Regions from separate parts of the Homo sapiens genome. Here region 2 is linked to region 1. The links come from fine-mapping of genetic effects on gene expression. A gene starts in region 1. The other region holds a variant in brackets. All regions are shown on one strand. Distances are from middle to middle.

Region 1 (16,184 bases):
AATGGCTATAACACAAAATTAAAGACATTTTAAACAGCAGATTAGGCACAGTTGGACAGAGAATTGGAGAATGAGAAGACAGATGTAAAGTAACTGTGAAAATTTCATAGGGACATAACATGTGAGAAAGGAGTGAGGAGAACTGATAAACCTTAAGGGTTTGACTAAAAAGCACAAAGTATATCTTATAAGTAATACTGGGCAAGTTGGGAAGAATTCTAATCAAAGGGAAAATAGCTGGTAATTTTACAGAATTGAAGGAAGACATGATATCCTACCTTCAGGGAGCACACCTGTACCCATCCTTCTAAAGCTTAAGAAAAGTAAAAACAGAAATCACAATAGCTGAGAAAAGAAAAAAAGACAACTACAAGGCCTATAAAGGAATAACAAATAGTTTGACAGCCAACCTCCTTCTATCAATAAATAAAAGCCAAAATCAGAGGAGATGTGTGTTAACACAGAATGTCATTGCTAGCTAAAGTATTATTTGAGAACGAGGCTGTGGTAGGCGTGGACGAGCCAGCGTCCCCTTTAAGGATGGATTTGCTGTTTCGGGTGTTGGGAATGCAAGCAGGTGCCAGTCCTGAGCCATTAGTCCTTTCCAGTATTACCATAGCTACTCTTAGCTGCCTTGCCCATACACACTGCCTGATCCAGGAGAAGTCGAACGGTCTGGTATTTTGGCACAATGGCGAATACCCTGATGGGCCCCTTTATCTTCAGATCTCACCCTGGGATCAGAATAGGATTCCACTGGCCTTGCACTCGAGGTGAACTTCTCCCTATGCCCACTCCTGCCTGCCTCCAGACCCTTCCTCAGCTATTGACCCTGAATAAGTTTCCCACACACTAAACTTTATTTCAGAGCCAATTTCTTCCAGGACCAAAGTCAGAAATGATGATATTTGAGAGAAATGGAAAACTCTTAGTGTGGATACCAACAAAAACTTTGTTAAAGAAATTTCTGAAGAATGTCATTTAAAGAGATGTAAAGTGATCACAAGAAGATGACTGGAGGTGCCAAGAAGGAAGGGTAATAGAATAAATTAACAAGAGGAGTAAAACGATGATTGTATAAAACTGACGCAGGAGAAATACAACAACAGAAAAAGAAAACCCTTCAGTCTGATATCCTTGATGAACATCGATGCAAACATCCTCAACAAACTACTGGCAAACCGAATCCAGCAGCACACCAAAAAGCGTATCCGCCACCATCACGTGGGCTTCACCCCTGGGACCCCCGTGATGCAAGGTCAGTTCAACATACGCAAAGCAACAGTTGTGATTCATCACATAAACAGCACGAAAGAGAAAAACCACATGTTTATCTCAATAGCTGCAGAAAAGGCTTTTGATAAAATTCAACACCACTTCATGTTAAAAACTCTCAGTAAACTATGTACTGAAGGAACGCACCTCAAAATAATAAGAGGCATCTATGACAGACCCACAGCCAACATCATACTGAATGGGCAAGAGCTGGAAGCACTCCCCTTGGAAACTGGCCCAAGACAAGGATGCCCTCTCACCACTGCGATTCAACATAGTCTTGGAAGTTCCAGCCTGGGCAACCAGGCAAGAGAAAGGAATAAAGAGCATTCAAATAGGAAGAGAGGAAGTCAAAATCATGTCCCTGTTTTCAGACGACATGATCCTATATCTAGAAAGCCCCATCGTCTCAGCCCCAAAGCTTCTCAAGCTAATAAACAACTTCAGCAAATCCTCAGGATACAAAATCATTGTGCAAAAATCACCAGCACTCTTGTACATCCACAACAATGAACCCGAGAGCCAAATCACGAATGAACTCCCATTCACACTTGCCACAAAAAGAATAAAATGCCTAGGAAGACAGCTAGCCAAGAAAGTGAAAGATCTCTACAAGGAGAACTACAAACCACTACTTAAAGAAATCAGAGGTGACACAAACAAATGGAAAAACATTCCATACTTATGCATAGGAAGAATCAGTATCGTTAAAATGACCATACTTCCCAAAGCACTTTACAGATTCAATGTTATTCCCATTAAACTACCGTTGACATTCTCCCCAGAACTGGAAATAATATCCTGAAATTCACGTGAAACCAACAAAAGAGCCCGAATAGACCAACACAATCTTAAGCAAAAGGAAGAAAGCTGGAGGCATCACACTACCTGACTTCAAACTATACTCCAGGGCTACAGTACAGGTACAAGAACAGACACACAGACCAATGGAACAGAATAGAGAATGCAGAAATTATTATTATTGTTGTTGTTGTTATTATTATTTTGAGACAAACCCAGAAATTAAGACTGCACGCCTACAACTATATGATCTTCGACAAACCTGAAAAAAAGCAAGCAATGTGGAGAGGATTCCCTATGGAATAAATAGTGCTGGAGGTGCTGGCTAGCCATATGCTGAAGATTGAACCTGGACCCCCTTCCTTACACCGTATACAAAAATGAACATGAGATGAATTAAAAACCTAAAAGTAAAATCCAAAACTATAAAAACTCTAGATGACAACTTAGGCTACACCATTCGGGACATGGACACCAGTACCAGGCAAAGATTTCATGACTAAGATGCCAAAAGAAATTCCAACAAAAGCAAAAATTGACAAATGGTATCTAACTAAATTAAAGAGCTTCTGCACAGCAAAAGAAACTCTCAACACAGTAAACACACAACCTACCGAATGGGAGAACATTTTTGCAAACGATGCATCTGACAAAGGTCTAATATCCAGCATCTGTAAGGAACTTAACCACATTTACAAGAAATAAACCAACAACCCCATTAAAAAATGGGCAAAGGACATGAACAGACATTTCTCAAAGGAAGACCTACATAGGGCCAACAAGCAAATAAAAAAAAACGTCAACATCACTGATGTTAGAGAAATGCAAATCAAAACCACAATGAGATACTGTCTCATATCAGTCAGAATGGCTACTATGATGAAGTCCAAAAATAACACATGCTGGCAAGTTTGCAGAGAGAAAGGGACGCTTATGCACGGTCTTTGGGGGAGCGTAAATTATTTCAACCATTGTGGAAGACAGTGTGGCAATACCTGAAAGACCTGAGGTCTGAAATACAATTCGACCCAGCAATGCCATTACTGGGCATATACGCAAAGAAATAGAAATCGTTCTATTATACAGACGTGTGCATGCGTATGTTCATTGCAGCACTGTTCACGATAGCAAGGACATGAAATCAACCCAAATGCCCATCAATGATAGGCTGGATAAGGAAACTGTGGTACATATACACCGTGGAATACTATGCCTCTATAAAATAGAACGACACCATGTCCTTTGCAGGGACTTGGATGGAGCTGGAGGCCATTATCCTTAGCAAACTACTGTAAGAACAGTGATATGGTTTGGCTCTGTGTCCCCCACCCAAATCTCACCTTGAATTGTAATTTCCATACTCTCCCTGTGTCAAGGGTGGGACCACATGGAGGTGACTGAACTGTGGGGGTGCTTTCCCCCATGCTGTTCTCATGATAGTGAGTGAGTTCTCACAGGATCTGATGGTTTTAGAAGGGGCTTACCCCTTCGCTCTGCACTTCTTCTCCTTCCTGCCACCACGTGAAAAAGGACGTGCTTGCATTTCCTTCCACCATAATTGTAAGTTTTGTGAGGCCTCGCCAGCCCTGTGGAACTGTGAGTCAATTAAATCTCCCTCCTTTATAAATAACCCAGTCTCGGCTATTTCTTCATAGCAGCGTGAGAACAGACTAATACAAGCAGCAAACCAAATAGTGCATGTTCTCACTTGTAAGTAGGAGCTAAATGATGAGAACACATGGACACATAGAGAGGAACAACACACACTGGGGCCTATCGGAGGGTGGAGAGTGGGAGGAGGGACAGGATCAGGAAAAATAACTAATGGTTACTAGGCTTAATGCCTGGGTGATGAAATAATCGGCACAGAAAAGCCCCATGACACACGTTTACCTCTCTAAAATACCTGTACATTCTGTACATGTACCCCCGAACTTAAAATAAAATGGAAAACACCCTGATGCAATAAAGATTATGACTATATTAAAAATTAAGGAAACAGGCAGGGCGCAGTGGCTGATGCCTGTAATCCCAGCACTTTGGGAGGCTGAGGTGGATGGATCACTTTAGGCCAGGAGTTCAAGGCCAGCGTGGCCAACATGATAAAACCCCGTCTCCACTAAAAGTACAAAAATTAGCCGGGTGTGGTGGCGCATCCCTGTAGTCTTAGCTACTGGGGAGCCTGAGGCAGGAGAACCTCTTGAACCCAGCAGGTGGAGGTGGCAGTGAGCTGAGATCGCACCAATGCACTCCAGCCTGGGTGACAGATTGTTGTCTCAAAAAAAAGAAAAAAAAAGAATTAGAGAAACAAAATAAGGACTATATATTACAATTTTGCATCACGTAGATGATGGGAACATCCTGTGAGAGCAGCTCATGCCATAGTCACCACTGGCTCAGGCAATAAAGGCTTTCCAGCCCTTGAGGCACCACAAGCCATGGCTGAAAGTGTGGGGAGGTGACCCGGAAATGAACCAGTGAGAGCCTCCCTGGGAGGTTTAACCTTGCAGATTGTGAAGAAAAACGATGTGGCTCTTTCCCTGTTTTTTGTTTGCTTTTTTTTTTTTAAGAAAAATATCATGCTGACTTACTGATATGAATACAGAGATTGTTGTGGACAGGTCTCTTGTGCCTTGTACCAAACTACGAGAAGGATTGTCTTGCTAAACGTTTAAGTAGATTTATAAGATCATCATTTGTAAAGGGGACTGTTCAGAAATGGTGTACTAGAGTTCAGTCACAGAGCTTACCATATACGATCTTATCTAACAACAAAAATGAGCCTTTTTGTCCTTCTTAATCGTGAACCAATTTATTAGGAGTAGAATAAGTTGTTTGCTAAAGACATGACAGGAAATACACTTGAAAGCCTGACCTTTGAAATGACAGTTCATCGATGACCTTTATTTCTTCAGCATTTCTTAAGAATCTTTCTTGTTCAATTCCTGCAACTTAATGTTACTTAAATGCATTTAAGGAATGCCTTTGCGTATATTATCAGAGACTCTTGAAAGCTCTCTTTCTAACTTGAACATAATTTCCATTTCTGGAATCCCTTTCTCTCCCTCAGGGGCTTCCTAGGAGATTTAAGGCGATATTTTTTAACCCAATATCTCTTAAACTTATTAGCCATTTCCAGCTTTTGAGTTGTGATTTGTGGTTGTTGTTTTGCTTTCCTTTTTTTTTTTTTAATTATTTTTTTAAACCTGGTCGATGTCGAGTGTTGTCATATGTTTTTAATAAAAGTGCCTTTCTGTTTCTATTGTCTGCTTGGAGGCTGGGGTATGGCCATTTCTCATTCTCCTGATTCACGGAAGATGTTGATCAGTACTGAAGCCCGGAGCCAGACCGCTAGGTCCTTTGATGCCCAGGCGGCCATGTCAGGGAGTTCCTGCTCAAGCCAGGGTGGCTTAGCCCAGGATAACAGTAGCTTCTGAGATGGGTGACAATTGTTCCACACGTGGCCACAGTCATTCTTCCGGCATAATGGACTTGGGCTCAGGAGGTCTGTCTCTCCTCAGGGATCATGAGCTGAAATTGCTAAACTTTGGGAGTTTTCAGTGACACCCTTCAAAGTGCTCACAGTGTGGCATGGATCAGCTGAGAAGGGCGGATGCGCTTTTGCCCCGTGAGGCATCTATCTGTGTAACTTTCTCCGAGCTGGGCCACAAGGGGCGCTTAGGCCCGCAGACGCCCACTGTGATTGGTTGACGAGATGCCACGCAACGGGACCATCCAGTCACCTTCAACGCAGGTAGGTTTGCTGAGAGGCTCCCTGCGTGACACTTCATCCAATCAGACGTGAAGCTGGCCCGAGACGTGGAGCCATGCTGCGTACCGAAGTGCCCCGGCTTCCCCGGTCCACAACCGCCATTGTCTGGTCGTGCCATCTAATGGCCACTGCCTCCGCCATGGCTGGACCTTCCTCTGAGACGACCTCTGAGGAACAGCTGATCACCCAGGAGCCCAAAGAGGCCAACTCCACTACGTCCCAGAAGCAGAGCAAGCAGAGGAAGCGAGGGCGCCATGGGCCCCGCAGGTGCCACTCCAACTGCCGCGGGGACAGCTTCGCCACCTATTTCCGCCGGGTGCTGAAGCAGGTTCACCAGGGCCTCAGCCTTTCCCGGGAGGCCGTGAGTGTCATGGATTCTTTGGTTCATGACATATTGGACCGCATCGCCACCGAGGCTGGTCACCTGGCCCGCTCCACCAAGCGCCAGACCATCACTGCCTGGGAGACCCGGATGGCTGTGCGCCTGCTGCTGCCGGGGCAGATGGGCAAGCTCGCCGAGTCCGAAGGCACGAAGGCTGTCCTCAGGTACACCAGGAGCAAGTGCGCTCCCTCAGGAGCACCCGAGCACCACGGGAACCCAAAGGGTCTTTTCAGAGCCACTGAATGTGGCCTGAAAGACCAGTGGCTCGCCAAGGGGGACACCACCGGAGGCTGGGGTGGGTGGTGCCCTTCCGACTTGGGGGGCATGTGGCGTGTGGCATCCTGCAATGTTTCAAGCATTTTCCCCTCAGTACTAAACATTGTCAGCTCCAATATATCTGTAGTGCAGTTTGCTCCAAGGAAAAATAGTGGGTGTTTCCGTGATCGTGTTTCATTTCCTCAGTTTCGTAAACGGTCATTTTTGTTAGTTATGTTTCTAGGCTATCTATATGGTGATATTATTACTGCACTGATCTTTACCTTTTTCTGTCTCATTCTCCTGTGACTGGATGGTGGAATTTTCCAGAACTTCACTGTATGCCATACAGCAACAGAGAAAGTGAATACGCTGATACAAGAAGCAAGGTAACCCTCCTAAATGTTTTCAACACCGCTCCCATCACGAATCCATGTAAATAAGCAAATGAGGCCAAGTTACAGTGTACATACAGCTAAATAAAATTTTCAAGAATCCGTTCATTTTCCAGCTTCCTCGACTCTGAGATCACTATTGCAGTTCATTCTTTTTTTGCCATGACGATAATCTTTTCGTTTCTTTTTAAACAGAAACCTTCGTTACTTCCAGGTTTGTGTCAGTAGGCTTAGGGAGTGTCCACAGAAATGGCTCATGCCCTAGTGTTCAGTGGTGTAGCCAATGAGTGACTTGCAGTCTATGAGCAACAGTCATTGTCCCAGTGTGGGGGCAGTGAACCAGGCTGAACCCACAACAGCCTTGCACTGATATGCAGTCTGGTGTTTGGGGGGACAGGGTTGTGATTCTTTACCTGATGTTTTTGTTTTCAGTGTTTGTAATCATGGTCATTTAAGGATATGAATCCAGTGCTAGGAGTAGTATATGTTCCTTGCCCCTAGCATCAAGTTATGCAGAGGATGGTCAGCCTTTAGGAGAAGTCAGATAACGCTTATTTCCTCAAGAGATTTGCATATTAATATTCATGTTAATGTTAATATAGGTTAGCTTTCATTGTGCTTTCTTCTGGGTCCCAAGTCTTTGTATTTTTAGCACTTTTTCCTATGAGTGTATTGTTGAATTTCAGAGCAGCTGCTGACTTTCCCATTGCTTTTCTTTTCAGAGGATCTCCAGCCGCCCGAGTATGTGGACCAGAGAACATACTCTGGGATTGCGACCCATAGGAATTTATTGTATTGTGCCTTGAAGCTCAATATGTGGCCATTTTTGTCAAATGTTTCCCGTGAATTTTGAAACATCTCATAAACAACCTTTCTCCTTCATATGTAGAAACCAGTAAAGGGTGACACTCTCAGTCAAACCATGAAACAAAAGCTGGGAAAATGACAAAAATCAAAATTTTCTTGAGCCCATCAGAAGTGGGAAAGAACCACACCAGATGGCCCAACACATAGCCACATAGATTATTCCACCTTTGGCAGAGGACCGTTTGGTCAAGAGGGAAATGGGGGCATGGCAGGATAGTAGCCAGAGCTTCCCTGAGTAGTGCATTTGGGCAGCGTGGGCAGTTCACCTCCAGAGCTCCACTTGGGCTCCGTAGAGAAAGGATGTAGGGCCAAGAAGTCCCCTCATTGGGATTTGCTACTTTCTGTTTTTGCAGAATATTAGAAAAATGTCATGAAAATAGTTGAAGAGAAATGCTCACTGCACAAGGAGACCAAGAAAAACCCCCCACGAAATCAGCCACAACTAAATCGCTCTGGACGGTGCCGCCAGGTGACCCTACATGTCCGGAGCAACACTTTGAAAACCAAAGACGCTTGGCAGAACCCTGTTCCTTTCCAGAGACAGAGCTGTGTACCTTGTCTAAAACACCGCATCTCACTCAGTGACTTATTTCTCATTATGCTAATTGTTTTCGCTTTAAAGCGCCAGTCTTTCTGTCAAATGGGACATACAAATAAATTTCTAAAATTATCCTTGCATGTCTACTGGGTAATTTGACATGTCTTTTTCAGAAACCGTATCCATTGGGATATTTTACCCTGGAGTGTGTGTTTTCCATTTGTAAATTCAGAAATGAATGAGGAGCATTAGTAAAACAGCGTTAACAATGAACTCTGATTGGGCTGTGGGGAGTGAAGAGTGAGAGTTCAAGGGGACTGATGCCGGTGAGTTATAGGAAGAAAGAGAAAAAGGCTGCTTTGATGTGAAGATGGGCAGAGGAGCTCACACATCTGCTATAGCATTTCAGTGGGTGATTGAGGAGAAGGGGAACCTAGTGAGCAATCGTGATGTCAAGCTGTGGCTTACTGAAAACACAAAGTAAGGGAAATAGCTTTACGGCTTAAACAACAAATAAGAAGTATCAATGTATGGAAAGTAGGATGAATAGGACAAACATAGTCCAATCAATCTTTTCATCAGCATTCCCTGTACCATGGAGTTCATTCGTAAACATGAGCAAGGACCCAAAGACAGTACAGAGAAAATGATATAAAAAATTTTAAGGAACAATACCTATTCTAGGCTCCCTAGAAATGGAATCCCACTTGCTTAGATTTGTCTGATTCTGCTCTTCTTCAGACTAGAATCTTTTGTTTTTGGAGACCTTTATGCCTGGCCTCTGTTCATCATGGGGATGATGGAATGCTGTCCGATGGAGCAGCACAAGCTCCACTCAGATCCTTGTCAGCCAGTGAGGCACCTGCAGCCGAGGAGCCACAGCCCAATGTGTGATGAGGTTTCCCGGTCTGAACTAGGAAGAGTTACTTGTCCAGGGATGTTCAATGGGAGTTGAAGGGGAAACCTGTGATTACATGGGTGTGCTTCTTTGGTTCTTCGATGGGTTGTATGCTTTTAATGCTGCTGTTGGAGGTGTATTTTATTATATTAGTTTTCTAGGGCCGCTGCAAAAATATTCCAGAGACTGGCTGACTTAAACACTATGTATTTTTCATCCCACAGTTCTGGATACCTATTGTCACCTTTTTGTAAGGAGACCAATCCTGTTGGGTAGGGTCAACCCTCATAACTTCACTTTAACCACATGACCTGACTAGAGACTCTCTCCAAATAAGGTCACATTCTAAAACACTGGGGGCCAGGACTTCTACCTCTGAATTGTAGGGAGACACAACTCCATCCATACTAGTACACCTTCTGCATCCACTCCGCGGCACAAATTAATGTCCTCACATAGGAAATACATTCATTTCATCACAACATCCCCAAAGACTTAACGCCCTCCAACGTCAATTCTCTAATATCTCACCTGATAATCTATATCTGGAATGGGTGAGCCTCCAGGTATGACTCATGCTGAGGCGGGAATTCTCTCCACCACTGCACCTGTGAAGCTAGACACGTTGTCTGCTTCTGAAAGACAGTTGTGGGACTGGTGCCGGATAGGGCTTATCCTACCAAAAGCAGGAAATCTGAAAAACTACTGGAGTACGTGGGCTCTAAGCACTTTTGAAACCTAATGGGGGCAAATTCCGTTACATTCCAAGGATGGAAAAGATTCTGCCTGGGCTCAGTGCTCTGTCCTTCAGGCCCAATGGGGTAACAGCTTCACACCCTAAGCCCTGGGCAGCGGGGTGGGGGCTCTCCCCCCAGCCTGGGCTGCTGCAGCCCATCCCTCTGAAACCGAGGAGGTGGGACAAATGCCTGGAACTCAGGAGGTGACCTCCGTTTCTGGGACCAAGAGAGAGATGGCCCAGTCCCCTAGTACCGTGCCCCTGGTTCTTGGGGGCAGTGACGGCCATGCCAACCTCTGACCCAACTTTGGAGTCCTTCTTCCCTGTCTCGAAAATGAAGAAATGGTCACAGCTGGGTACCTCAGTCAGTCCCTTTCTTGCCGGTACAGTCCAGGAACTCTAACAGCCTCCTTTCATTTCGTCCCATCTTTGTCCCGTTCAGTCCAGTCTGGCAACATTTTTCTCGTATAAAATTCTCAAAAATTTGTTGGCTTCCCACGGAATTCACATGAGTCCAGGCCATCAGACAAGAAGTTGTCTACAGATCTTCCTTGAATACCCATATCTCCCATATCTCAATTCCTAACTTCTGCAGAGATGGTTGATTGGATCCGTGAGGCACATGCCTCTCCTCTTAGGCCAATGGTTTTCCAGGCACACCCTTGCACCTGTTTCCAGAGCAAGGTATCTGCATACTTTGAGTACCTTCTGAATCATCCAGTGCTGGCTTCCTTCTCCTCAGTGCTTCCTTGGCTAATTTCTCTCACTTCTCTCCCATTTACTGTAGGCATCTAGGAGTAACCAGATTAAATCTAAATACTTTTCTCAGTTTGTCAGTGTAGTGGCCAAGGTTCCCCCTGGTCTTCTTAAGTTTTGCTGAAAGCTCAAGTCACAAAACGCAGAGCCATAGGACATAAGGCATACCAACTTATTCGAAGTGTATCCCCAGAGGCTTTAGTGTTAATAGCCAAAGATACATGGGAAATTATCCATTTTTATGCCTGGGCTCAAAGGAGTATAAACAGCTGTGTAGAAATACGATGGGACAAAAAGGCTATGATCTAATGCTAACAGGTGGAGTGGGGGAACCCAGCAAGGCCTGTCTGTCTAGACTCTGCTTGGCCTATCTGAGCACACAGTCCTTCCTCCCGGATATGGGGCAGGACCCTCTCTGGAATGGGGGTCTGGTGACTCCAAACAACATAGGTTCGATCATTTCTTCATGGACAGTTTTTACATGAAAATGTGGAAAACATTACAATACCGTTTCTAGGTTTTGTGACTATCTTTAGAAAAAAGAGCTTCTGGTTTCTAGGACCCACCTTCCGGAAGAGGGATTCTGGTCTCTAAGTTTAGCCCCCGGGGCTGAATGGGACTGAGAGACCAGAGGACCAAGAATGTCAGAGAAAATCGTTTTCATCTGAGACTACTTCTGAAGCCCTCATTTTGGGATAGTGTGCCCTGAGCTCCAACACTAGAAATCAGCTACATGTGCAAGTTCATCACTTACAAATTCTACTTTCCTCAAAGACACTATGAAGACAATACAGCCCAAACCTTTGCCACTGTAAAACTAGGATGGCCTTTCCTCGTGCTTCCAATAACCTCTTCCTAGTCTCCGTCTGAAAACACACCACAGGCACCTTTAACACACATAGTTCTAGCAACATTTTGGTGATCATGATATATGTATTCTCTAAGTCAGAGATCCTTTCTCTACAGCAAAGAATTCTTTCTTAACCCTCGTTTCAATGTCATTTGGTGTTCATATCCCCCCCGCCGTTTCCTGAAGGCACTCTAGGCTTCTTGTGTCATGCCTGTCACAACGCTTCCAGCCTGTATGCATTACCTAGTTCCAAGGCCTCTTCCAATCTTCCGGATGTTCCTTATCACATCATCCCACTGCTTGGCAACAGAATCTCCAGTAGTTTGATAGGGCTATTCTGACAAAGTACCACAAACATGGCGGCATAAACAGCAGAAATTTATTGGTTACATTTAGGCAGGCTGGAAGTCCAAATCAAAGCGCCAGCTGGGTTGGTTCCTTCTGAGTAGTAAGAGGGAAGGATCTCTTCCAGGGATCTTTCCTTGACTTGTAAATGGTCCACTCTTGCGCATGCCACTTCACATTTTCTTCCCTGGATGCATGTCTCTGTGTCTGAATTTCCCCTTTTGGTATGCCGCAGAGCAAGTGCTCAACCCTTCCGACTCTCAACTAGGGCGAGCTCTGCGTTCCACGCATTCTTCCACTCCTGTTCTGCGACCTCTCCAGTTCCAAACAAGCTGCGTTGTACTAGGAATCCTCTCTAAATCATATTCGTCATCTGGTTATTCCTTATTTCTTCCTTCAGGAGCCCACTCTCTCTTGGGAGAGCTGCGGATCCTCGCTCAGCGTTGTGTGTCAGGGTTGCCAAAGACCTGATGTGTGAGGCTTCTTTGCCTTTTTCATAGGCAAGTGAGCACATAAGTTCTTGTCTAATAAATGTGGGGGCAGCTTTCAGAGTGAATGGGGCACTACGAATCATTGGGTGGGACAATAGGCAAAACCTGTACGTGTGGCCACCCCTCTGTGGAAAGATCTGGGGATAGAATAAGAACATCCATTGGGGTTTCGAACACAAAGTTTGGTGGGCAATGAGAGCGATTTACTTTTAATAGCATGTTTTTCATGATTTCTTCTCTTTGACATTCCTGTGCTTTTGTTTCCTGGAGACAACTGGTGTGGCTAGGCTGCATTAACATGGGAAAGAGACACAACACCATTAGAGCGTCTGTTTGGGTCTTAGGACTCATGTGAGCTAGTGGGACTGGACTCGACAGCAAGAGTCATTGAGAGCATGGGATTGGGGGTGAGAGGAGACCTGGGCTCAGACCCCAGCTGTGCCTCTTAGAGGCTGTACCGTGTTGGGCAAGTGGCTTGACCTCTCTGAGCCTCAGTTTCCTCCTCTGTGGAATAGGGCTCTAGAAGGTGGTTGTGAAGATCCAGGGTGATGATGCAGACGGGGTGCCAGATACATAGTCAGCAACCAATGAATGTCGGCTGTACCTGGTCCCAATTTCGAGATTCCTGCCCTCCGGAAATCACAGGTGGTGGGGGTGGGATCCAGTGCCAGACAGCTGTATGAGCACACCCTCCTGGCTACCTGGGACACATCTGTTTGCTTCGGGCTGACAGTGAGATAAGGGAGGATGATTTTTCCCCCCTGAGCCACATGTTAGTGAAGCAGTAGAGATAACGCTGCTCTGAGTCCTGACGGGAAGTTGCTGGGGAGCAACTTTAAAGTGCTCCTGGCTTCGGGCACTAACCACTCGGGGCTTTGTGGCAAGCTATTCCCCCTCACGGCCAAGGAACCTCGCTTCCCATACCACCTCCTTGCCCCTGCCCACCGTCTCACTATCTGAATCCTATTCACTTTTCAGGTCTTGGCTCAAATCCTGACTCCCCTATGAAGATGTCCTGACCCTCCCAGCCTAGAGAGACTGCTCCCTCCTTGAGTCACAGGATCTCCAACCGTGACATGGGCACACTGTTTGCAACATCCTCACAGACGGATTGTGATGAGGAAGGAAAGAGAGAGTCGATGTAGCGTGCTAGGTGCAGTGTCTGGTGCAGGCCTGTGGTGAGTTCCCTGACTCTTCTTCTTCCTCCCTTCTGAACCCACAGCATGCTGGCATGGCGGCCTTGATCACATGCTGCCTTCTCTTGATAGTCATTGGAGATCATGTCTGTGCTAGTTGTCCCCTCAGTTGCAATGTCACAGACCACGGGGGCCACATCTCATCCTTCCTCACCTTCCAGCATCCAGCACTACAATAAACGCCATCGTAACCATTTTTCATTGGGCACCTTAGGGTACAATGTGGCAGGCACTCGGCTATGTAGGTAATGCACATAAGTGTAGTCCTCACTCATTCCCCTCCTAGCTCTCTTCCAGGATGTGCAGGCACTGATTCTCCTTTGAGTTATACCAGACAGATTTGGTCAACCGCTACCAAGGTCGCATCATGAGTAAGTGGCCCTGACAGGCATCTAGTCCTATGCTAGATTAAGTTCTAGTGAATGCCTGTGAATGGGTGGTGGGCAGGAGGGAAAGATGTAGAGCCCAATATAGCAGTGCCTGCCTTGTACTTTTACCAGGCAGAGGCAGGCCTGCTTGAGAGAAAGCTGTAGGCAATAAAGACATAGGACTCAGTGGGTCCTCGAGCTCAGGTAAGGGGATATAGTCCCTCCAGGACAGGGGGAGAAATGGAGAGGGGATGGTTCAAGCTAAACCTCAAGGCAGCTGTCCCAGGGAATTCCACAGTGGCTCCAGGATCCCCCAAAATAGTAGCAGATGACCCACCCACTGGCCATCCTCAAGGTGAACTGTAGAACAAGCCCGGGTCAAGAAAGCCTCCTTGGAAAAGGTCTGTTAGCCTAGAAGATGTTGAATCCCTTGGGAGTCCACAATGGGCATTTCACTCCCACAGATCCTTGGGAGAGAACCAGGCCACAAGATCACCCGTGTGACCTATGATGCAATGAGGAGACAGGCTCCACTGTGCTTAAGTGTCCCTTACAAGTAGAAGCCAGAGGAGCTGCACTCAGTGCTATTTATTCACCCGATGCCTAAGGTCATTGGGGAAGGTCCCAGACAGCTTGTACCAGCACGCCTGATGCCTTGGAGGGGCTGGCTGGAGGCCTGAGCTCAACCGGGCCTCTGCACCTCTCCAAGGCCCCTCAGAGCATATCACTGTGGTGTCTCCAGCAGGAGAGGTGGACTTCTTAGGGGGCAGCTCAGAGCTCTCAGACAGCCAGACAGAGGCCACTCTAGTCCTCTGAAAGGTTACCTCTGGGACAGGCTAAAGTCCGCCATTCTCCATGTGTCAAAGCCATCAACGGGCCTGTCGGGAGCCCAGAGGGAGGGGCAAGCAGACGCAACCAATGTGCCAATACGAAGAGCATTCAGGAATGGGCAGCCTTTCTGAGATGCAGCCTATTCAGCACACGCTTCTTGAGATGCTGCTGGGTGGCACACACAGAGCATGTGCATAAGAAGTGGTCCTTTAACTCTCTGGGTCGAAGGGGTAGGCTCTCAAATGGTTTTACACTGGACCTATCACTAGCAGGGTGACATCTCCCATTTAGTGGATCCTCCTTCTCCATGCCATAGTGATTGATTGCCCTTAAGTGACATGAAGTTTCTAACCATTATAGACACTCTTTCTCCCTTCTGTGGCCCTGGCCATACATAAAAAGACACACAGAATAACAGTAAGAAGAATATGGGGAGTCAGTACTTCTTAATAGGAGGTTGACTAGAACCTGGTCTCAATATCTGATCCTCCAGATTTGGGGCCCCCAAGTGTTCCCAATTCCCTCATCAACCTCTTCTTTCATGGCTCTCCAGAATCTGACACTCCAATGACAATCCGTCCCTCTCTATGGAGCCTACAACAGCACACATCTCAGCACGCATCTCAGAGGACAGGTTTCAGGCCACCGGAGGAATTTAGGAGTGAGAACTGCAGGAGCGATCTTATCCCTCGCTGTTTGAACAAGCACTGTGGGCCAATGGCCATGGCCCAGGAGCCGCAGGGCCTTCATGGACTGAGCCAGTGGAGAGTGGGGCTTGGACCCCTCTGACTGGATGTTTCCATCATCCGAACGATGCGTTAGTTCCAAGTCATGAAGGTGGGTATTTCCAGAAATAAAACAATATAACCTGGAAAAGAACAGACAGAATCAGATACATTAGAAGTAGTTGGAGTAATAACTTCAGTTTCCAAGGAGCTTGGAGAGGTATTGATTCTTGAACTTTATGATGTACTTATGTCATCAAAAACAAATACATTTTGTGGATGGGTGATACTAAGATATTTATTTATTCTTTTTATATAGTTTATATATATATATATATGTTACATATATGTATTTTACATTATATATCTTTTTTAGTTTTTTCTTATGACTGGGTCTCACTTTGTCACCCGGGCTGCAGAGCAATGACGCCATCTCGGCTCAGTGTAGACTGGACAATCTGGGTTCAAGCGATTCTCCCACCTCAGCCCCATAAGAAGCTGAGACTGCAGGCATGTGTCACTGCGCCTGGCTAATTTGTGTGTGTGTGTGTGTGTGTGTGTGTGTGTGTGTGTGTGTGTGTGTGTGTATTTTTGTATTTTTGGTAGAGACGGGTTTCCCCATGTTGCCCTGGCTGATCTCGAATTCCTGAACTCAATTGATTCACCCTCCTTGGACTCCTGAAGCGGTAGGATTACAGGCACT
Region 2 (16,184 bases), 31 kb before region 1:
GAATTTTCTGAGGTGGCTCTTTGTCCTAAATTTTCACCCTCATGATCCAAAGAAGAGTCTTGAAGATATCATTTCCCACCAGAATTCTTGTGATTTAGGCCTTGAAAACACAGACATTTATTCCCACTCCTCAATCTAGCATTGTGCCCTTCTTGCCTGGGCTACTCAAGGATGCTTCCCCTAGTATCCTCCCTTACCCCCATTCATTTACTTGAGGTCACAGGGGTCTACCGAAGTTAAAGAAACTTTGTGTTTTATCTCTCCTGGAGGGTTGTAAGCTCCTTCTGATGGGCTACAGAAAAGCGTTCATTTTTGGACACTATCCAACATTGGTCACATGGTTTCGCTGAAAGTGATGACCCTTATAGGTTTGTACCTACTACTGAATGGTGGAGTTTACAAGTTATCATAAAAGTGCAAATGGAACACTTAACAAAATTAGCCAAATCTAGGACTTTAAAGCAAATAGTCATACATTTCTGAGGATTGAAATCACAGAGTATCTTCTCTCCCTTTTGAGCTGGAAAAGGACAAATATATATATATATATATACATATATATATATATATGTATATGTATATGCATATATATTATATATACAATACAATTACTCAACTTTCAAGTAGACTTTAAAAAACATGGGTAGGGATCACCTTATTTCCCTTCATCAGTCACCAGTGTTCTCTTAACATACTGGAAGAGGCTGGAGATATCCACATCTACAACTCAGGATTCCTATGTTCTGTTTGTTCAGTTGTGCTCCCCGCTGCCTCTGCCACACCAAATACGTGAGTTTGACTCCTAACCTCTCATCTCTATTCTACTTAAAGATGGTTTCTTTACTGGGATACTCAAGTTAAATTACATTCATTAGGAGATATCACCACTGATTTCACAGAAATACAAACTACCGTCAGAGAATACTATAAACACTTCTATGCAGGTAAACTAGAAAATCTAGAAGAAATGGATAAATTCCTGGACACATATACCCTCCCAAGTCTAAACCAGGAAGAACTCGAATCCCTGCCTCTGCCGGGTAAAAGTCATGGGGAAGGCACTTGTATTCTGGGCTCTACGTCTGTCCTTCCTGCCAACCACCCATTCTCAGGCACTCACTAGAAACTTAATCTAGCATAGGACTTTATGTCTGTCGAGGCCACTTACTCATGAAGCGACCTTGGTAGCGGTTGACACAATTTGTCTAATATAATTCAAAGGAGAATCAATGCCTGCACATCCTGGAAGAGGGCTAGGAGGGGAAAGAGTGAGGACTACACTCATGTGCATTACACACATAGCCGAGTGCCTGCCACATGTTACCCTAAGGTGCCCAATGAAAAATGGTTATGATGGCTTTTATTGTAGTGCTGGATGCTGGAAGGTGAGAAAGGATGAGATGTGGCCCCCATGGTCTGTGACATTGCAACTGAGGGGCAACTAGCACAGGAATGATCCCCAATGATTATCAAGAGAAGGCAGCATGTGATCAAGGCCGCCATGCCTGCATGCTGGGGGTTCGGAGGGGAGGAAGAAGTGTAGGCGGGGAACTCACCACAGGCCCGCACCAGACACTGCACTTAGCATGCTATATCGACTCTCTCTTTCCTTCCTCATCACAATCCGTCTGTGGGGATGTGGCAAACAAGTATGCCCATGTCACAGTTGGAGATCTGGAGACTCATGAAACGAGCAGTGGCTCTAGGCTGGGAGGGTCAGGACATCTTCACAGGGGAGTCAGGATTTGAGCCAAGACCTGAAAAGTGAATAAAATTCAGTTAGGGAGACGGTGGGTGGGGGCAAGGAGGTGGTATGGGAAGCCAGGTTCTGTGGCAGTGAGTGGAAATAACTTGTCACAAAGCCCCGAGTGGGTAGTGCCCCAAGCCGGGAGCACTGTAAAGTTGCTCCCCAGCAACTTCCCGTCAGGACTCAGAGCAGCATTATCTCTACCGCTTCACTAACATGTGGCTCAGGACGGGAAAGTCATTGTCCCTTATCTCACTGTCAGCTCGAAGCAAACAGATGGGGCCCAGGTAGCCAGGAGAGCGTGTTCATTCAGCTGTCTGGCACTGGATCCCACCCCCACCACCTGCCATTGCCTGAGGGCACAAATCTCGGAATTGGGACCAGGTACAGCCGGCATTCATTGGTTGCTGACTATGTATCTGGCACCGTGTCTGCATCATCACCCTGGATCTTCACAACCACCTTCTAGACCCCTGTTCCACAGAGGAGGAAACTGAGGCTCAGAGAGGTCAAGCCACTTGCCAATCGCAGTACAGCTAGTAAGAGATACAGCTGGGGTCTCAGCCCAGGTCTCCTCTGACTCCCAAATCGATGCCCTCAATCACTCTTTCTGTCGAGTCCGGTCCCACTAGCTTACATGAGTCCTATGACCCAAACAGACGTTCTCAAGGTGTTGTGTCGCTTTCCCATGTTAATGCAGCCTAGCCACACCAGTTGCCTCCAGAAAACAAAAGCACCAGAATGTCAAAGAGAAGAAATCATGAAAAAGATGCTATTAAAAGTAAATCAGTCTCATTGCCCACGAATCTTTTTGTCCCAAAACACAAGGGACGTTCTTATTCTATTGCCAGATCTTTCCCCAGAAGGGTGGCCACACATCCTGATTTTGCCTATTGTGCCAGCCCAATTATTCGTAGTTCCCCATTCCCTCCAAATGCTGCCCTCACATATATTCAACAGGAAATTGCTTGCTCACCCTACCTATGAAAAGGCAAAGAAGCCTCACACATCAGGTCTTTGGCAACCCTGACACACCATGTTGAGCGAGGATCCTCAGCTCTTCCAAGAGAGAGTGGGCTCCTGGAGGAAGAAATAAGGAATAAACAGATGAGGAATATGATTTAGAGAGGATCCTAGTACAACCCAACTTGTCTGGAACTGGAGTAGTCAGAGAACAAGGGTGGAAGAATGCGTGGAACGCAGACCTCGCTCTAGTTGAGAGTTGGCAGGGTTGAGCACTTGCTCTGCGGCAGGTGAGTGTTGGGGAGCAGGTCGACCGACACCCACAGTGATTGCCAAGCAACGAGACCATCGAATCGCCTCCAAGGCCAGGAGGCTTGCTGATAGGCTCCCTGCGTGGCACTTCATTCAGTCAGATGTGGAGTTGCTGGCCCGTGACATAAGCCATGGGGTGACTACAAAAGGCCATCCCGCTGGTGGTCAGCCATCATTGTCCGTTCCTCACATCCACTGGCAGTTGCCTCCAAGATGGCTGAGCCTTCCTCTGAGACAACCTCCAATGAATGCCTGAACATGAAAGATCCCACAGCAGCCGAGGCCACTATGGCCCACAAGCAGCAGAAGACAAGCAGCTGATATTTCTGGGTTTTCACCTTTTCTTGTTTGTTTTGTTTTCGTTAAAGTAAAGGTACCTTTTCAGGTAAGTTTCACCAAGATTATGACACAACCAAGGATGCATGAGGTGTCTCCAAAGAGGAGGAAAATAGATTTCACAAGGTGGAGTGGCCTTTGTTGTTATTCCCACATGGGGCAGTTTGAGCAGACACAGGAGGTTATCTTTGTTTTGGTCAGATTTTTTGCTCGTCACTTTTGTCAAGCCAAATTTTAAGGCTAACTGTCACACCATGATGTGTCTTTTTATATGTTTAACCTTTTTATCAACTGGTTAGAATGAGAAATCTCTAAAATCCTTTTAATATAATTTAGCGGGTTAATTTAGAGGATCAATCTATTGGTTATTGACAATTAGAATTCTCAATATTGTACTGAAGTTCAATAGCGACTGGATGCCATATCCTCTTCAGAGAAGAAGCAATCCCAGAGTTTCCTCTTGTTCCCAGACATAGGCTAAGATAACAAATGACTCGGGGGATAGCAGTTTGCCAGCACACGCTGGGTAGACCAGCGGTCCCCAACCTTTTTGACACCAGTGACTAGTTTCAGGGAAGACAATTTTTTCCATGGAATGGCATTGGGGGTGATGGTTTTGGGATGACTCAAGTGCATTACACTTATTGTACACTTTATTTCTATTATTATTATATTTTAATGTGTAATGAAATAATTTTACGACTCACCATATTGTAGAATCAGTGGTAACCCTGAGCTTGTTTTCCTGCCACTAGACGGTCCGATATGGGGGTGATGGGGGACAGTGACAGATCATCAGTCATTAGATTTCCATAAGGAGTCTGCAGCCTAAGATCCCTCAGTCCCCAATATATATATTAGACTCCTGACCCCTCATCTCTCTCCTACTTGAAGTAGGTCCTTAACTGGGGTACTCAAGTTAAATTACATTCATTAAGGTGTGCTCTAACCAAAATGACTAGAATGCATTCTGCATACCATAAGGGGAAATTCAGACACAGAGACATGCGTCCAGGGAAGAAAACGTGAAGTGGCATGGGGATAAATGGGCCACTTACAAGCCAAGGAAAGATCCCTGGAAGAGATCCTTCCCTCTTACTACTCAGAAGGAACCAACACAGCTGGCACTTTGATTTGGACTTCCAACCTGCTGAACCGTGAACAATAAATTTCTGCTGTTTATGCCATCAGATCTGTGGTACTTTTTCAGAATAGCCCTAGCAAACTACTAGAGACTCTGTTGCCAAGCAGTGGGATGATGCAATAAGGAACCTCCAAAGATTGGACGAGGCCTCGGAACTAGGTAATGCATACAGGCTGGAAGTGTTTTGACATGCATGACACAAGAAGCCTAGAGTGACTTTAGGAAACAGCGGAGGGAAATATGAACACCAAATGCAATTGAAACGAGGGCTAAGAAGAATTATTTGCTGTAGAGAAAGGATCTCTGACTTAGAGAATACATGTATCATGATCACCGAAATGTTGCTAGAACTATGTGTGTTAAAGGTGCTTGTGGCGTGTTTGCAGACGGAGACTACGAAGAGGTTATTGGAAGCATGAGGAAAGGCCATCCTAGTTTTACAGTGGCAAAGATTTGGGCTGTATTGTGTTCTTAGTGTCTTTGAGGAAAGCAGAATTTGTAAGTGATGAACTTGCACATGTAGCTGATTTCTAGTTTTGGAGTTCAGGGCACAATACCAAAAAATGGGGGCTTCAGAAGTATTTTCAGATAAAAAAGATTTTCTCTGACATTCTTGGTCCTCCTGTCTCTCAGTCCCATTCAACCTCAGGGGCTAAACCCAGGAACCAGAATCCTTCTTCCCGAAGGTGGGTTCTAGAAACCAGAAGCTCTTTTTTATAGTCACAAAACCAAGAAATGATATTGTAATATCTTCCACATTTTCATGTAAAAACTGTCCATGAAGAAATGATCTAACCTATCTTCTTTGAATGGAAGTCAGAAGACCCCCATTCCAGAGAGGGTCCTGCCCCGTATCCGGGAGGAAGGACTGTGTGCTCAGATAGGCCAAGCAGAGTCTAGACACACAGGCCTTGCCAGGTTTCCCCCACTCAGCCTATTCGCATTAGATCATAGTCTTTTTGTCCCATCATATTTCTACACAGATGTCCATATTCCTTTAAGCCAAGGCATAAAAATGGATAATAATTTCCCATGTATCTTTGGCTATTAACACTAAAGACTCCCAGGGAGACACATTGTATAAGTTGGTATGCCTTATGTCCTATGGATCTGCCTTTTGTGACTTGAGTTTTCAGTGAAACTTAAGAGGACAAGGGGGGAATCTTGGCCACTACACTGACAAACTGAGAAAAGTATTTAGGATTTAATCTGGTTTCTCCTAGATCTGTATAGTGAATGGGAGAGAAGAGAGAGAAATTAGCAAAGGAAGAACTGAGTAAAAGGAAGTCAGCATTGGATGACTCAGAAGGTACTCAAAAGATGCAGATACCTTGCTCTGGAAATAGGTGCAAGGGTGTGCCTGGAAGACCGTTAGCTAAAGAGGGGAGGTATGTGTCTCACAGATCCAATCAACTGTCTCTGCAGAAGTTAGGAATTGAAATATGGAAGATATTGGTATTCACGAAAGATCTTTAGACAACTTCTTGTCTGATGGCCTGGACGCATGTGAATTCCGTGGGAAGCCAAGAATTTTTTGAGAATTTTACAGCAGAAAAACATTGCCAGACTGGACTGAACGGGACAAAGATGGGACGAAATTCAAGGAGGCTGTTAGAGTTCCTGGACTGTACCGGCAAGAAAGGGACTGACTGAGGCACCCAGCTGTGACCATTTCTTCATTTTCGAGACAGGGAGGAAGGACTCCAAAGTTGGGTCAGAGGTTGGCATGGCCGTCACTGCCCCCAAGAACCAGGGGCACGGTACTAGGGGACTGGGCCATCTCTCTCTTGGTCCCAGAAATGGAGGTCACCTCCTGAGTTCCAGGCATTTGTCCCACCTCCTCGGTTTCAGAGGGATGGGCTGCAGCAGCC[C/T]AGGCTGGGGGGAGAGCCCCCACCCGGCTGCCCAGGGCTTAGGGTGTGAAGCTGTTACCCCATTGGGCCTGAAGGACAGAGCACTGAGCCCAAGCAGAATCTTTTCCATCTTTAGAATGTAACGGAATTTGCCCCCATTAGGTTTCAAAAGTGCTTAGGGCCCACGTACTCCAGTAGTTTTTCGGATTTCCTGCTTTTGGTATGATAAGCCCTATCTGGTATCAGTCTCACAACTGTCTTTCAGAAGGAGATAACTTGTCTAGCTTCACAGATGCAGTGGTGGAGAGAATTCCCGCCTCAGCATGAATCATACCTGGAGGCTCACCCATTCCAGATATAGAAGATTATCAGGTGAGATATTAGAGAATTGACGTTGGAGTGAGTTAAGTCTTCAGGGATGTTGTGATGAAATGAATGTATTTTCTATGTGAGGTTGTTAATTTGTGTCACGGAGTGGTGCAGAAGGTGTACTAGTATGTATGGAGTTGTGTCTCCCTACAATTCAGAGGTAGAAGTCCTGGCCCCCAGTGTTTTAGAATGTGACCTTATTTGGAGAGAGTCTTTAGTCAGGTCATCTGGTTAAAGTGAAGTTATGAGGGTTGACCTTATCCAACAGGATTGGTCTCCTTACAAAATGGTGACAATTGTAATCCAGAACTGTGAGATAAAAAATACATAGTGTTTAAGTCAGCCAGTCTCTGGAATATTTTTCAGCGGCCCTAGAAAACTGATAGAATACACCTCCATCAGAAGCATTGAAAGCATACAACCCATCGAAGAGCCAAAGAAGCACACCCATGTAATCACAGGTTTCCCCTTCAACTCCCATTGAACATCCCTGGACAACTAACTCTACCTATTTCAGACCGGGAAACCTGATCACACATTGGGCCATGGCCCCTTGGCTGCAGTTGCCTCACTGGCTGACACGGATCTGAGTGGAGCTTGTGCTGCTCCATTGGACGGCATTCCATCATCCCCATGATGCACTGAGGCCAGTCATGAAGGTTTTCTTAAACAAAAGATTCTAGCCTGAAGAAGAGCAGAATCAGGTAAATCTAAACAAGTGAGATTTCATTACGAAGGAGCCTAGAATAGGTATTGTTCCTTAGACTTTTTGATGTAGTTTTCTCTGCCGTGTTTGTGTCCTTGCTTATATTTTCAAATGAACTCCAGGTTACAGGGAAGGCTGATCAAATGTTTGACTGGACTCTCTTTATCCCATTCATGCTGTTTTCCCTACATTGATACTTCTTATTTGTTGTTTAAGCAGTAAAGGTCTTTCCCGTAGTTTGCGTTTCTTTAAGTCACAGCATGACATCATGATTGCCTAATAGGTTCCGCTTCTGCTCAATGACCCAAAGAAATACCATATCAAATGTGTGAGCTTCCTCCTCCGATCTTCACATCAATCCACCCCTTTCCTCTTTCTTCCTGTAATTCACCGGCATCAGTCCCCTTGCCCCCTCACTCTTCACTCCCCACAACCAAATCAGATTTCATTGTTAACCCTGTTTTACTAATGGCCCTCTTTGATTTCTGAATTTACAAAGGGAAAACACATATTCCAAGGTAAAATATCTCAGTGGATTTGGTTTCTCAAAAGGACTTGTCTAATTACACACATATGCAAGGGTAACTTCAGAAATTTATTCGTATGTCTTAATTCACAGAAACATTGGCATTTTACAGCAAAACAATTAGCATAATGAGAAATAAGTCACTGAGTGAGATGTGGTGTTTTGTCAGGTACACAGCTCTGTCTCTGGGAAGAAGCAGGGTTCTGGCAAGGGTCTTTGGTTTGGCAAGGGTTGTTCCGGACTTGTAGGAACATTTGGTGGCACCATCCAGAAGGATTTACTTGCAGCTGATTTTGTGGGGTTTTTCTTGGTCTCCTCGTGCAATAAGCACAACTTCAACTATTTTCATAACATTTCTCTTCAGCTATTTCTGTAATATTTTTCTAATAATCTGGAAAAACAGAAAGTAACAGATCCCAATGAGTGGACTTCTTGGTTCTATATCATTTCTCTATGGATCCCAAGTGGAGCTCTGGAGGTGACCTTCCCCTCTTCCCATCTGCACTACTCAGGGAAGCTCTGGCTACCATCTTGCCCTGACCCTGTTTCCCTCTTGACCAAGGGGTCCTCTTTAAATGGTGGAATAATCTATGTGGCTATGTGTTGGGCCCTCTGGGGTGGTTCTTTCCCACTTCTGATGGGCTCAAGAAAATTTTGATTTTTGTCATTTATCCAGCTTTTGTTTCATGGTTTGACTGAGAGTGCCATCCTTTACTGGTTTCTACATATGAAGGAGAAGGGTTGTTTATGAGATGTTTCAAAATTTACGGGAAACATTTAACAAAAATGGCCACATGTTGAGCTTCAAGGCACAACATAATAAATTCCTGTGGGTTGCAGTCCCAGAGTATGTTCTCTTGTCCACATACTCGGGCGACTGGAAATCAATGGAAAAGGAAAGCAATGGGAAAGTGAGCACCTGCTCTGAAATTCAGCAATACACTTATAGAAAAAAATGCTTAAAATGCCAAGACTTGGGACCCAGAAGAGAGCACAATGAAAGGTAGCCTATATTAATATTAACATGAATATAAATATGCTAATCTTTTGAGGAAATAAGCCTTATCTGACTTCTACTAATGGTTGCCAATGTTCTGTATAACTTGATGTTAGGGACAAGGTACATATTCTAATCTTAGCTTTGGATTCATATCCCTAAAAGATCATGATTACAAGCAATGCAAACAAAAACATCAGGTAAAGAATCACACTGCCGTTCCTTTAAACACCAGGTTGAATATAACAGGAAGGCTGCTGTGGGTTCAGCTTGGGTCACTCCCCCCACATTGGGTCAATGACTGTTGCTCATAGACTGCAGGTCACTCATTGGCTGTACCACTGTACACTAGGGCATGAGCTGTTTCCGTGGACACTCCGTAATCCTACTGACACACACCTGGAAGTAAGGAAGGTTTCTGTTCAAAAAGAAATGAAAAAATTACTGTCAGTACAAAAAGAGAATGAATTACAATAGTGGTCTCAGAGTCGGGGAAGCTGGAAAACGAATGGATTCTTGAAAATTTTATTTAGCCATATATATACTGTAACTGGGCCTCGTTTGCTTATTTACATGGATTCATGATGAGAGAGATGCTGAACACATTTAGGAGGGTTACCTTGCTTCTTGTATCAGCATATTCACTTTCTCTGTTGCCATATCGCACATAATGAAGTTCTGGAAAATCCCACCATCCAGTCGTAGGAGAATGAGAGTGAAAAAGGTAAACATCAGTACATTGATAACATCATCATAAAGATAACCTAGAAAGATAACTAAGAAAAACGGCCATTTGGGAAACTGAGGACACGAAACACGATTACGGAAACACCCCCTACTTTTCCTTGGAGCATATTGCACTACAGATATATTGGAGTTGACAGTGTTTTGCACTGTGGGAAAAATGCTTGAAAAACCGCAGGAGGCCACACGGCACATGCCCCCCAAGCTGGAACGGTGCCACCCACACCAACCTCCGGTGGGGTCCCCCCCTTGGCGGGCCACTGGCCTATAGGGCCACGGGCGGTGGTTCTGAATAGAGCCTTTGGGTTTCCCAGGTGCTCAGGCGCTCCTGAGACAGCTCACTTGCTTTTGGTGTACCTGAGGGCGGCATTCGTGCCCTGGGCCTCGGCGAGCTTGCCCATCTTCCCCGGCAGCAGCAGTCGCACGGCCATCTGGATGTCCCGGGAGGTGATGGTCACGCGCTTGGTGTAATGGGCCAGCTGACCAGCCTCGGTGGCGATGCGGTCCAATATGTCATGGATCATAGAATCCATGACACTCACGGCCTCCTGGGAAAGGCTGAGGCCCTGGTGAACCTGCTTCAGCACCCGGGGGAAATAGGGGGTGAAGCTGTCCCCGAAGCTGTCCCCACGGCGGTTGGCGTGGCGCCTGCGGGAGCCTCGGCACCCTCGCCTCTTCTGCTTCTGGGCCTTCGTGGAGTTGGCCTCTTTGGGCTCCTGGATGCTCTGGCCTTCCTCCGAGGTTGTCTCAGAGGAAGCCTCAGCCATGGCGGAAGCAGCGGCCATTAGATAGCAAGAACAGAGAGTGACGGTTGGGGACCAGGGAAGTGGGGGGCACTTTGGTATGGTCGCATGGCTCTACGTCACATTCCAACTCGACATCTGATTGGATGAAGTGTCACCAAGGGCGCCTCTCAGCAATCTTCCCTCCATTGAAGGTGATCGGATGATCCTGTTGCTTGGAATCATGTCAGCCAATCACAGAGGGCGTCTGCCCGCCTAAGTGGCCGGGTTGCCTACCTCAGACAAAGGTACACAGAGTCTTGCTCTGTGGCACACCTGCAGTGCAGTGGTGCGGTCTCAGCTCACTGCAACCCCTGCCTCCTGGTTTCAAGTGATGCTCCCTCTTCAGCCTCCCAAGTAGCTGGGAGTAGAGGCGCGTACCACCACACCTGGCTAAGTTTTGTATTTTGTGTGTGTGTATGTGTGTGTGTGTGAGAAACATGGTTTCTTTATGTTTCCTCAGGCTGGTCCCAACTCCTGGACTCCAGTGATTCTCCTGCCTTGGCCTCCCAAGCTGCTGGGATTACAGGCATGAGCTATTGTGCCTGGCAGAGAAAACTTATTTCAAGAAAATAAAACATGATGTTGATACCCATTGAAGGATGCACACTACAAAAATCTGAGAACATTTATAAACTTGGTTACAAAACTCATACCTGAAATATTATAAATTAAATCACATTACACACACACACACACACACACACACACACACAAAGGGAAACAGTTTACTGCTGTAAATAACAATTTAGAAGCATCAAACGGGGCAAACATTACTAATGGAACAAGCAGACCTCATATAATCTTTTTTCAACATTACCTCTATTATACAATTCATTTAAATACATAACAAAAACCCACAGTGCAGAAATAGCTAAATCAAAAATTCAATGAACAGCACCCCTTTCAAGCTTCCGAGAAAATAAAGTAAGGACTCTAACTCATTCACATTTGTCTAATTCTATTGTTTCCCAGTCTACAATCTTTTTTAATGCAAAGCTTAATGTCCTGTGAGTATGCATCACTTACGATGGAAGTATCCAATGAGAGCACCCAAACCCCACTCTCCACTGGCTCAACTAATGAAGTGTCTTCAGCCCTGGGCCTGAGCCACTGGCTCAGAATGTGAGCAGGTGACCAGTCCTGAACCAATAAATGCCCTCCTAGCTGTTCAGCCTTGTAAATTGAGGAGAAAATTAGTTTGAGGTTTTTGTCCACTTTTTATTTCTTTGTTTGATTTTTCGTTTTATTGTAATTGTGGTGAATTAAAGATTTGAATCCAAAGCTGTGAGTAAGCATGTCTCCTACCTCTGGCATCATATTATGAAGGCAAGTTCTCTGAAAAGGAATTTGGAGGAAAGAGACTATTCCTGTGAACAGCTTGCACACCAGGGAGGGGCAGACTTCAGTGTAAAACAAAGGCGAAGTTCCAGAGAACTAAAAGAGGATATGGCTTTTATAGAGAAAGTTCCCATCGAGGTTCTCAGTACAGTCCATTCATGCAAATAAAGGATTCAAAATTAGTTCTGATTGGTTGACTCAGTTGATCTCTGATTGGTCAACACGACTGAGCCCTGATTGGCAGGGGCAGGTGAGCTCTGGCTGGTTGGTTCAGGTGACCTCTGAAAGTTGCAGAGTTAGATAGAGGTATGGGCTTTTGGGGAATTCCTAGTACATGTGTGAGCTCTAGTCTGCACGTGGCAGCTTGCTTGGCTCTAGTTTAGATTTAGGCTCAGTCACTGGGATCCATCTGGAAAGACTGGCTCTTTTAGGTTTACATTTGTCCACAAGTTTAATAAAATGATAGTGACCAATTAAAAAAACTAGGACGACTCTCCTTTTTTTTTCAATTTGATTGTTGTGGGGCTTTTTCACTTTCAGGCACATGTGTCTGACAAAATTAACCCACTATGGTAATTTGAGACAATAAAAACACTTACTTCAGTACAAAGCTTTCTCCAAAATATGATTGGCCCTGATTCTTGATGCAATATAATAGTCTTCCCCTTTCATTAGACTGTCACTCTGCAATAAGGGGGAAGGAGTGTGGAAGTGAGTGGGGGCACAGAAGAAGCTGTAAAGGGTGGCTATTTCCTCTTTTTCCTTATCCCAGACATTTTCCCTAGTATAGTGACCATGTGTCCTGATTTCACCTGTTGTCCCTTAGTAATTCTTAACAGCATCCCCTTTCACTCTGAAACATGTCCAAATTTACAAATCTGTACTTCCCAATGTAACTAGAACATGCAGGAAGTTGTGAGTGTAGTAGATCTCAGATCTTTGTTGAATGAACAGATAAATAAATGAACCTATGTTAGATAAGAGACTGGCCCATGACAACCTATGAGACCATTGCTGAATTCTGTGGCTAGTCCACACGACCCATCGGGACCTCTTGGGTACAGTCCCCTTTCCTGTTCTGCACTTAAAAGGAATTATTTCTCTACAAAGCTGTCTGAGTCCCCGTGTTAAACCCATGAGAATGTCAGATTTTGTTTCCTCCATGATCTGCATATCACATTGACTCCTCCCAATAACTCTTTATGGTGTAGATATTTTAGCCTCAACTTTTTGGCAGACAAGAAACACAGTAACTAACAAACGTGTCCAGTGATCACACAGCTGATAAATGGAAGAGCAGAAATTCAAATCCACGTCAGTCTGAGTCCAGAACCCAAGCACTTGAACGTTGTCTCCTGCCATCCTCTCTCATACTGCGGTGATGGCACCTTCAACGCATGAATACGTAGGTAGACAGTCTGAGGTGAGCCTCCCCTTCACAACAAGTCTTTACGTAGTTTGATCTTTCCCTGAAGGCAACGTGATAAATTCAGAGGTGTAAAAGCAAAAGCATCAAGTTAGCCTTCCTGCAAATGTATACAAGAAACCTGATTTTCTCGTGCAGCCACGGGAGTTTCTTCAAGCAGCAGTTAGCAAATTCAACCATGCCTGAGCTCAATTGTGTGTTTCAATAGCTGTCTGAAACAAATGCATAGCCATTCCATGTTGCACAATTGTGTCCAATGCAGATGGACTCCAACTTAGCATGGTTCAACTTAAAATTATTTACCTTTGTGATAGGTTTAACTGGACTTAACTCCATTGTAAGTTGGGGAGCATGTGTTTAGTCTGTTGCAGATTGGTGAGAGACAGGGTGGGAAGCAGTGAGTGGGGAAAATTTTCAGGTTAGGGTTATACAGTCATTACCCGATGATCAACATTTAGCTCTGTGATGGCCAATTTCATGTCTTGTCTCGTCTTGTCTTTCCAACCAGGGGGAGATTTTTTTCCCAAATAAGCAAAGATAGAGATCTAGGTAACTCGGCTTGGTTGGGTTACAGTACCTAGATATGTGGTCAAATTTTATTCTCAATGTTTGTGTGAATGTCCTTTTCGGTAAGATTAACATTGAAATCAATGGATCTGAGTACAACAGACTGCCCTCCATATTGGCCTGAATAGACCAAAAAGACTGACTTCCCCCAAGCAAGAGTAAATTCTGCAACAGACAGCCTTCACACTTGAACTGCAACATCGGCTCTCCCATGGGTCTTCAGCCTCATGGTCTTTAGACTTAAACTGTCACCTCAGCTTGTACCTGGGACTCTAGGCTGCCAGCCCACCCTGCAGATTTAGGACTTGCCAGCCTCCATAATCACATGAATCAGTTTCTTACAATAAATCTCTCTCGACAGATAGATGGATAAATATCCTATTGGTTTTATTTGTCTGGAAATCCCCTAATACAAGCTTTCTGCACCAAAACATTGCTGCAGAGATCTGTGTGTTTTTCCCACATGTAAAATATCCACTTAAATATGAGACGTTTTCGTGATTCCATTAATCAATACCTTTGCCTTTGATTAGTGACTACACTGTTAAGTCAGTAGTTTTTCCTGGATCTTAAGAGATGTTTCTTCATCATTTGATATGACTGGGGACAACAACGTATTCAGTTCAATGGTAAAGTTGATGACTTAATTAAAATTATTATCACTGAAAATAACAATCCCTTGAACATTGGTAGAGTCCAGGTGGCACGTGCTAACCAGAAGAGTGAATGAACTTACCCTACTTCTGACCTTGCCAGTTAATTGCACTCCCTTTCATTACCACCCATATAGCTGATACTCATATGGGTTGGTGTCAATTAAGCCAGGCATTGCTATAGTAATAAAAAGAGGCACCACTGACTGAATGGTGACTGTGCCAGGCATTTTTCTAAGTGCTTTACAGGTAATTGCTTCAATTACCTTTCACAAGATCTCCGTGAAGTAGTGTTATTATCTCCATGCTTATGGATAAAGAAACTGAACCACGTAAGAGTGTCACTTGCCCAAGATAAAACAGGTAGAATATTACCGAGGGAATAATCAAACAAATTTCTACACATTTAAGCTTCTGCTCAGAAAAAGAAGATATCATCAGAGTGAACAGGCAACATACGGAATGGGAGAAAATTTTTGCAATCTGTCCATCTGACAAAGGTCTGATACCCAGAATCTAAAAGAAACTTAAAGAAATTTACAAGAAAAAACAAACAACCCCATCAAATGTGGGCAAAGGATATGAGCAGATACTTCTCAGAAGAAGACATTCATGTGGCCAACAAACATGAAAAAAAGCTCATCATCACTGGTCGTTAGAGAAATGCAAATCAAAACCACAATGAGATACCATCTCGTGCCACTTAGAATGGCGATCAGTAAAAAGTCAAGAAACTACATATGCTGGCGAGGCTGTGGAGAAATAGGAACACTTTTACACTCTTGGTGGGAGTGTAAATTAGTGCAACCATTGTGGAAGACAGTGTGGGGAGTCCTCAAGGATCTAGAACCGGAAATTCCATTTGGTCCAGCAATCCCATTACTGGGTATACACACAAAGGCGTATAAATTATTCTATTATGAAGACACAAGCACACGTATGTTTATTGCAGCATTATGTACAATAGCACAGACTTGGAACCAACCCAAATGCCCATCAATGATAGACTGGACAAAGAAAAGTGGCACATATACACCATGGAATACTATGCAGCCATAAAAAAAGAATGAGTTCATGTCCTCTGCAGGGACATGGATGAAGCTGGAAGCCATCATTCTCCACAAACTAACACAGGAAGAGAAAACCAAACACTGTATGTTCTCACTCATAAGTGGGAGTCGAACAATGAGAACACATGGACACAGGGAGGGCAACATCACATGCTGGGGCCTGTCAGGGCTGGGGGACAAGGGGAGGGAGAGCATCAGGACAAATACCTAATGCATGCGGGGCTTAAAACCTAGATGACGGGTTGAGAGGTGCAGCAAATCACCATGGCACATGTGTACCTATGTAACAAACCTGCACGTACAGCACGTGTATCCCAGATCTTAAAGTAAAATAAAAAGAAAAGAAAAGAAACAAACATAGTAACCCCGGGAAGAAAAGATGAAAGCATTTTAAACACCAGTTTAGAGATAGTGGAATAGAGATTTAGTGAATCACAAGGTAGATAAAAATAATTATACACGATACTGCATACAGGGAACGAAGAAAGAAAAGATTAAAGAGAGGCAAGGAGACTAAAGGTGTGGTCAAAGAAGGTAGGATGAACATCATATGGGCATTACAGAAATGGAAATAAGAGTGAATTTTGCGAAAATAATATTCAGAGAGAAATGGCTGGTAATTTTCCAGAATAAAGGAAACACATGATTTGC

Direction of the effects. Positions count from the first base shown, and alleles are read on the strand shown. Sizes are in standard deviations (SD) of each study's normalised expression.
In carriers of allele C in region 2, the expression in cerebellum of the gene that starts at base 5,856 in region 1 tends to be lower than with T alone (moderate effect, 0.64 SD a copy in GTEx).

The links. PIP is the estimated chance that this variant, and not a neighbour inherited with it, causes the effect. A credible set is the group of variants that fine-mapping cannot tell apart.
Region 2: its variant is the best candidate, but not a certain one, in a credible set for the expression of H2BW1 in cerebellum (GTEx, PIP 0.68).

The regions. Positions count from the first base shown.
Region 1 is chrX:104,003,380-104,019,563 of GRCh38, reverse strand. It overlaps H2BW1 (H2B.W histone 1), which reads left to right and starts at 5,856. Exons shown (of 3, transcript NM_001002916.5): 1 at 5,856-6,394; 2 at 6,816-6,874; 3 at 8,101-8,417. The coding sequence starts at 5,988. The coding sequence ends at 6,852.
Region 2 is chrX:104,034,272-104,050,455 of GRCh38, reverse strand. H2BW2 (H2B.W histone 2) reads right to left here and starts at 10,500. Exons shown (of 4, transcript NM_001388464.1): 1 at 10,052-10,500; 2 at 9,570-9,628; 3 at 9,350-9,368; 4 at 8,002-8,344. The coding sequence starts at 10,461. The coding sequence ends at 9,592. The variant C/T (reference allele first, on the strand shown) is at 6,374.